Linked DNA regions of Homo sapiens. The protein of the gene in region 2 interacts with the protein of the main gene of each other region in a pairwise test. Each region holds a gene or a part of one and is shown on either strand. Other genes may lie near its edges. The genes, in order: PKNOX1 and BEX4.

Region 1 (3,814 bases), on a different chromosome or scaffold from region 2:
CGTGGTGGTGACCTCGGTGCATCCCAGTGCTAGGTGTGTGGGCTGTGAGCCAAAGCCTAGCCCTTCCACTGATTCGCTCTGTGGCAGGCAGGACAAGTGACTCACCCTCATCTACTCCTGTTTCTACATCCACAAATAGTGATACATCCACACTCACCCTAGGCTAGTGCTACATTTTCATAAAGTTCCATTTTGGTGTCTTTGCCTAGTTCTAGATCCTCAAGATTTTCTCTTGCGATTTTTCTAAAAGTTATATCATTTTGTTTTGTTTTGTTTTTTGAGACAGAGTTTCACTCTTATTGCCCAAGCTGGAGGCTGAAGTGCAGTGGTGCGATCTCAGCTCACTACAACCTCTGCCTTCTGGGTTCAAGTGATTCTCCTGCCTCAGCCTCCTGAGTAGCTGGGATTACAGGTGTGCACCACCATGCCCAGCTAATTTTTGTATTTTTAGTAGAGATGGGGTTTCACCATGTTGGTCAGGCTGTTCACGAACTCCTGACCTCAGGTGATCCACCTGCCTCAGCCTCCCAAAGTGCTGGGATTACAGGCGTGAGCCACCACGCCTGGCCAAAGTTGTATAGTTTTATATTAAGTAACTACATTTTGGGGTAATTTGTCCCACAGCAATAGATAACTAATACCAATAATGCAGCCATTTTCATAAGCACCAGCTGCCTATGAATCAGCAGCTCCGAAGCCCATCTCCTTCACCTGTAAATCTGGTGGTAGGAATTCGTAGGTATCTATGCAGTGAATAAATGAATCACTCAGTAACAAAAATGATGGAGTGTCAAACTCTGCTAGGCCCTGTGCTAAACACTCACCAGTCAAGAGAACCTTGGTCCCTGCCAGCCTAGTGGGGTGCAGAGGACACCTGTGCTCTACTCACTGGGCCAAGCCAGGTGTGGGCCAATGGGAAGATGGATGTGGACCACAGACTCAGGGGTGGAGAGAGCATCGGATCCTCACCCAAAGAGCATGCACTGTTAGTCTCATCTCAGAGAGGAGGAGACAGATTCAAGTCAGATAACTCACCCACAAAATCTGTTTCATGGTAAGCATCGAGTATATAATGAGAATTTTCTTAAAAACTAAGACCTCAGCAATTTATTCAGGAAAAATGAGTTTTCCAAAAACCTTTTCTGTTGAAGGCCCTAACCAGGGTTTTGATATGGGACCAAGATGGCTCGAAGGGAATCCAGTGAAGGTTCCCTGATGCCGGATCTTTGTGTACCCAGCTCTGAGAAGTAAACACGTGGTTACACTCTGGCAGGAGAGCACACCCAGAGAGTGTGGTCTGCCCAAAGCTGACAGTGCTGTACAGGTGCCTCAGGTGCAGCTCATTCAGAGCAATCCAGTGATGACGGAACCAAGATGTTCTCCATTGCCTCTGGAGGGCACAGAAAACGCTGGATTTTGGAGCCCTGGCCCTGGGGGGAGGGCATCACAAATCACTGTCAGCCTCAAGACAGAGCTGTCGCCGGGCGTGGTGGCTCACACCTGTAATCCCTGCACTTTGGGAGGCTGAGGCAGGCAGATCACAAGATCAGGAGATCGAGACTATCCTGGCTAACACGGTGAAATCCCGTCTCTACTAAAAATACAAAAAAAATTAGCCGGGCGTGGTGGCGGGTGCCTGTAGTCCCAGCTACTCGGGAGGCTGAGGCAGGAGAATGGCTTGAACCTGGGAGGCGGAGCTTGCAGTGAGCTGAGATCACACCACTGCACTCCAGCCTGGGCAACAGAGCGAGACTCCGTCTCAAAAAAAAAAAAAAAAAAAGACAGAGCTGTCTTGGAGAATACAGCTCAAGTCTGTGTCCATGTCCATGATAAGCCAAGGACAGACACAGGTCACAGACATGCCACCCGAACACCCCAGCCCTACGGACCTTTACAAACACTGTGCAGAGAACTGAATCCCCGTGTCCATTTGGCATGGAGGCTCAAATTATTTTATTTTATTTTATTTTATTTTTATTTTTTGAGACAGAGTCTCACTCTGACACCCAGGCTGGAGTGCAGTGGCACAATCTCGGCTCACTGCAACTTCCGCCTCCTGCGTTCAAGTGATTCTCCTGCCTCAGCCTCCTGAGTAGCTGGGACTACAGGCATGTGCCACCATGCCTGGCTAATTTTGTATTTTCAGTAGAGATGGGATTTTGGCCAACATCGAGACCAGATGTTGGCCAGGCTGGTCTCGAACTCCTGACCTTGTGATCTGCCCACCTCGGCCTCCCAAAGTGCTGGGATTACAGGTGTGAGCCACCACGCCTGGCCTATTTTATTTTATTTTTAAAGGAAAGGGTAGGTTGGGCCTTGAGAGACTGAGGAGGGAAGATTGCTTGAGGCCAGGAGTTTGAGACCATCTGGGGGAATACAGTAAGATGTGTCTACAAAAATAAAATAAATCTAAAAATAAAAACTAAATAAATAAAAGATACCTAGAGAAGGCTGGAAGACTTGGGGATATCCACATTACACACACCATAAAAATTCTTTTAGAGTTGTATGAGTCTCTCCTTTAGCAGAACTACAAGCAGTCTAAAGTTCTACTTAGAAGCCTAAAATTTCATGAACAGATTTCACATTTTGAAAACTAAAAATAAAATTTATTTTACTTACTAAATTATCAGTTTCTGGATCTTCACAAAAGAAAGGTTTCCCTTCCTTCTCTTGCTTTCTTACAAAATTTTCGATGTCTACATCAAAACTGGCAGAAGTTGTGCCTTCAGAGCCCTGTGTAGATTGTTCACATTTTTCAAACAACAAAGCTAATAATGGAAATAGTGGATGCCTGAGGAGAAAAGAAAAAAAAGAATCCATTTACGTTCTACATCTCCGTGAGAATGTCTTTGCGTGTATGCCTGCACTACTTCACTAACACCTCTGTTGGGTGAAAATGCACACGCCACACGGTCCACCCGTTGAAAGTATGCAATTCAACGGTTTTTACAGTTGCACAGCATTGCCGCCGTCAACTTTGGAACATTTCCATGATCCCCGCAAAGAAACCCTGTATCCAATAGCAGTCATTCTCCATTTTTTCCCAGACCCCAGCCTGTTAGAACCTACTTGCTATCTCTATATATTTGCCTCTCCTAGACATTCTGTCTAAATGGGAACCGTCTAACCTGTGACCGTGGTGTCTGGCTTGTTTCCCTCAGCATAAAGTGTCCAAGGCTTACCAGTGTTTTACGGGTATCAGTACTTTATTCCTTTTTTTTTTTTTTTTTTTTGAGATGGAGTCTCACTCTGTCGCCCAGGCTGGAGTGCAGCGGCACGATCTCGGGTCACTGCAACCTCTGCCCTCCCAGGTTTAAGCGATTCTCCTACTCAGCCTCCCCAAGTAGCCGGGACTACAGGCACCCGCCATGATGCCCAGCTAATTTTTTTTATTTTTTGAGATGGAGTTTCGCTCTTGTTGCCCAGGCTGGAGTGCAATGGCGTGATCTCGGTTCACCACAACCTCCGCCTCTCGGGTTCAAGCGATTCTCCTGCCTCAGCCTCCCAAGTAGCTAGGACTACAGGCATGCACCACCATGACTCGGCTAATTTTGTATCTTTAGAGACAGGGTTTCTCCACGTTGGTCAGGATGGTCTCAAACTCCTGACCTCAGATGATCCAACCGCCTCAGCCTCCCAAAGTGCTGGGATTACAGGCGTGAGCCACCATGCCTGGCCTAGTTTTTGTTTTAGTAGAGACAACATTTCGCCATTTTGGCCAGGCTTGTCTCGATCTCCTGACCTAAAGTGATCTGCCCGACTTGGCCCCTCAAAGTCCTGGGATTACAGGCATGAGCCACCGCGCCCGCCA
Region 2 (4,091 bases):
AGTTTGCACCAAATAAGTGATTTTCATTCTTTTTTCACTGTGATCTAGTTAGAAATACATCATAAAGGTGGCAATATTTACTACATAGAACACATTATTTTCTCCAAAACAATTCTTAACACTACTCACGGGTGATAGGATGACTTTTGTTCTCTTTTTAAAAAATTGCTTGTTGTAACCCACAAAACTGATTTCAAGAGCCATAGAGTGGCAATCCTAACTTTGAACAACACTAGAGGATCTTACTTTTTTTATCCCTCAATATTCTAAAAATTAAAGTGTACTTGAGATGTAGAAAAACAGTGTATAGAAAAACAGCCCCATTCTTGCTGAGTCTCTTTTACCATCCTCAGCTTGTCATCAAGTTACAAAAGTCAAATATTCTGCATCTCCAGATGATAAGGTCCAATAGAAAATGGCCCAGGCTGGATTCCCCCACCCCCAAGATATTCAGCAGGAGTTAGCCTTGGTACTTAACATCTCTAAGCCCCAGTGACCTCATCTGTAAAAGTGGGATAACAATACAGATTTTATAGGTTGTTCTAAGAATAAAATGAGATCCTGGATGTGAAACTGCTGACAGGGGTGATGAATTCTGAGTTCCTCAGGCTGTGACCTTCAGGCATGTTTTGCTTTGCACAGTGAATAACTTTGCCACTGTCCCTACCACTCCTATAATCATCAGTCTTATTTTAAGGTCTCATACTTTTCTTTTTTAATTACTTGCCCATCAAAGTCAGATTTATCTTGATATTGTTTATTGTTTACGGTTATGACACATTATATATATACACACACACACATATGTATATAGTTACGTACACACACACCAATGGCACTGATTTTGGTACACATCAGAATTACTTAAGAGAGTTTGTTAAAAATGGAGATTCTGGAGCCCCACTCTGTGAGTCTGGACGATAGGTCCTACATTTTTAAATGCCCCTGCCTGCCCCCAAGGTGTTTTTATACAGATGGTAGACTCACTCTGAAAAACACTAGAACATACATTCTTAAAATATCAAACATTGAATTCTGGGTATGATCATTCTTTTTTGGTCAGGGACAAGAAAAAAACTGTCAAAGACAACTGAGATTTTGAGTCCAGGTAGCCGGAGGAGGAAAAGTAATACTTACAAAAATAAGGACTGGAATGAAAAAGGAAGATGATGGAATACAGACTGCTTTTTGAACTGCTTTATGCATTTCATATTATGAAAAGAGTATTTTTCCTAAAATAGGTGAATTGCCATGCTGACCGTAACTTTTAGGCTGAGACAAAACAATATTCAATTAGAATTCTAATTTCCATTAGAAACTGGTAAGTGTAAACCCCAAAAGGCTTACAGAAAAAGTAAATCACAAAAATACAAGCTTGTAAAGCAGTGTTCACATTAACCTCAGCGAAAACTTTTAGGATTCAAGGTATGAGGCAAAAGTCATAATGGTTGTCAGGTTCAGGAGTTTGGAAGCGCATATAGTGCCTCATCTGCTGTTCCCTAGTCTTTCTCTTGATTTCCATCATCTGCCCTACAAACCTTTCTACATCATCTCTCGCTTCATTGTGCTCAATATGCCTATTAGGTATGGCCCATCGAAAATTAGGGACAAGTCGCCTAACTCGCCCCCGCCTGATATTTCCTCCAGGCTTCTGGCCTTCACCCCCTCCCAAATGGCGGGATTCTTCTTCATTCTGCGTGGGGGCCTGCTCCCCTCCTTCGTTTTCTTGTTGGGCATTTTCCCCGTTGAGATTGTTTGCCGCTAGTTCCTCTTTGGACTCCATTACTCCTAGGAGACAAGAGAGAGAAAATGGGCTGAATTCTTGGTGGACTGATAAGCACTGAGGACAGAGGCCCTACTAGGCACCTTTTAAAATTCAGAGCCCTGGACTTGACTTTATACTCTAACATTTCATTTTTTTCCACCTGAGAAGCCAGTATGCCCTGTGGGGTGCCCTCAATCCGAGCCCCTCCCTTCCGCAAAGCCCACCATTTTCCCTGTAGATCCATCTCCAGGCTTCCGCAGGCAGCAAAATGGAGGACGAGGATGGCGTGTGGGAAGGGGAGGGTTGCATGGGGTAGAGGGGGGCGAGGGTGAAGGCATGGATTAGGGTCTCAGACTGGGCTTTCCTCACGTTCCGGCCCCCGCCTCACCACCGACCCTCGCACCGACCTGGGCCTATCCTTGCAGTCTCCTCCTCCGGATTCTTGACGCGAGGTGCGCCGCCGCGACACTTAGCCCCGCAGACCTGCAGACTGCCGGGGTGGGGGAAGTGGGGGCTGCTGCAGCAGAACGCTAGCTAGGAACTACCGCCATCCGGCCCCTCCCCCGCCCCGCCCCGAGGCCCTGGCCCTGGCCCTGGCCCTGGCCCTCCTCGCCACCCTCGCCCCCCGCCTCAGCCGCCCCGCCCCGCAAGCTGACCACCATTTTCTGCACCAAGAAGTGCGGGGCAGGGGTGTCGGAAAAGCTTGCGCTGATGGCGTAGGCAGGTGTTTCCGAAGGGTCGTAGCCCCAGGACCGCCGGCTCCCTCCGGGCCGGGCACCTCTCCGCTCAAGGAAGGCTCGCGGGCCCGCCGCGGGGCCCGGGGGCTGCATCGCGGACCGATTGCTTCTCCGCACGGCTCCCCCGGGGTGGGCATCCGCAGGCCGGAGCCACTCCCTCACACCAACCCCAGGGACCCCCCGCCGGGTTCCTTACCTGCTCCCCCTCCGCTTCCTAATTTCGGGGCCGCCCCTGGCCCACACGTCCTCAGGGCCACCGGGAGCAGGTACCACCGCCGAGAATGGAACGAGCCACGACGGCTCTGACGCCAGAGCGAGACAACACTCAGTGTTGGCCGGTCACGTGGGGCTGTTGTCATCGCCAACGGCTCCGCCCCCGTCCCACGCCCCCTCCTGCAGCCCGGAGTCAGGCGGGGCTTTCGGGTCAGCCCCTATCCTCATCCGGAGTCTCTTTTAGTATCTCCAGACTGGCCGGCCCTTCCACTCTCCTGTCTTTGTGTATTCTTGGGACTTCCTCTGCCTCCCCAAGAGGGAAGCTGTCTTCTCAGGGAGCTGTTGGCCATTCCCACTTCTGTGGGGACTTGCCTCTCCCTGTCCTGGGCTCCCAGGATTTTCCCCACATCTCCCAACCAGGACGCGGGCGCAGAATTTAAAGGGGTGCAAAATTCCTCAGCAGTCAAGAAAAATAACATTTTAATGCAACATTTTAAAAAACAATTATTGCAAGAAAATTTATGATGAGCAAGATGTCAAAAATTTAAATAAAGAGAGCATCAGTCCCGCCCACCCCAATGGCAAACTGTGGTACTTGTTACCAATGCTCATCCTTTTCTCCACACCAGAACGTTTGGGGGGGGACAGGAAATGAGTCAAGGACAGTGGATTTTTTTTCTAATTCTTCTTAATACCTTTCTGTTCTGTTCCTTTTTTTGGGGGGTGGGGCAGAGTCTCGCTCTGTCGCCCAGGCTGGAGTGCAGTGGCGCGATCTCGGCTCACTGCAAGCTCCGCCTCCCGGGCTCACGCCATTCTCCTGCCTCAGCCTCCCGAGTAGCTGGGACTACAGGCGCCCGCCACCACGCCCGGCTAATTTTTTGTATTTTTAGTAGAGACGGGGTTTCACCGTGTTAGCCAGGATGGTCTGGATTTCCTGACCTCGTGATCCGCCCGCCTCGGCCTCCCAAAGTGCTGGGATTACAGGCGTGAGCGCCCGGCCCCTTTTTTGTTTAAGAAACAGTCTTTATAGTTTAACTTTATCTTAACTTTAATGGAAAATTTCGAACATTTGGAAAAATGGAATAGTATAATGCAAACCCCATGTACTAGTCCTCACTCAGATTCCACAGTTAACAACTCATGGCCAATCTTATTTCGTCTTTATCTTACCCGCTTCCCAACCTTAAAATTATTTCTGAAGCAAATTCTAGACATAATATCACTTTAGGCATAAATATTTCAAAGTATGTATCTACAAGATAAGGGTTTTCTTCTTTTTAGCATATAACCACAATACTGTTGTCACATTTAATAATTCACAATTCCTTAATATCATTTTATGTCTAATCTGTGTTCAAATACCCAATTGTATTATA

Evidence for each region.
Region 1: the proteins of BEX4 (region 2) and PKNOX1 interact in a two-hybrid assay, tested with the Homo sapiens proteins (one large-scale study listed by BioGRID and IntAct).

What each region holds. Positions count from the first base shown.
Region 1 is NC_000021.9:43,009,033-43,012,846, reverse strand, and holds part of PKNOX1 (homeobox protein PKNOX1), read right to left. Parts: intron 2,795-3,814; coding exon 2,623-2,794; intron 1-2,622. UniProt on the Homo sapiens protein: Activates transcription in the presence of PBX1A and HOXA1.
Region 2 is NC_000023.11:103,213,846-103,217,936, reverse strand, and holds BEX4 (protein BEX4), read right to left. Parts: upstream 2,830-4,091; 5' UTR 2,699-2,829; intron 2,256-2,698; 5' UTR 2,173-2,255; intron 1,789-2,172; 5' UTR 1,784-1,788; coding exon 1,421-1,783; 3' UTR 691-1,420; downstream 1-690. UniProt on the Homo sapiens protein: May play a role in microtubule deacetylation by negatively regulating the SIRT2 deacetylase activity toward alpha-tubulin and thereby participate in the control of cell cycle progression and genomic stability.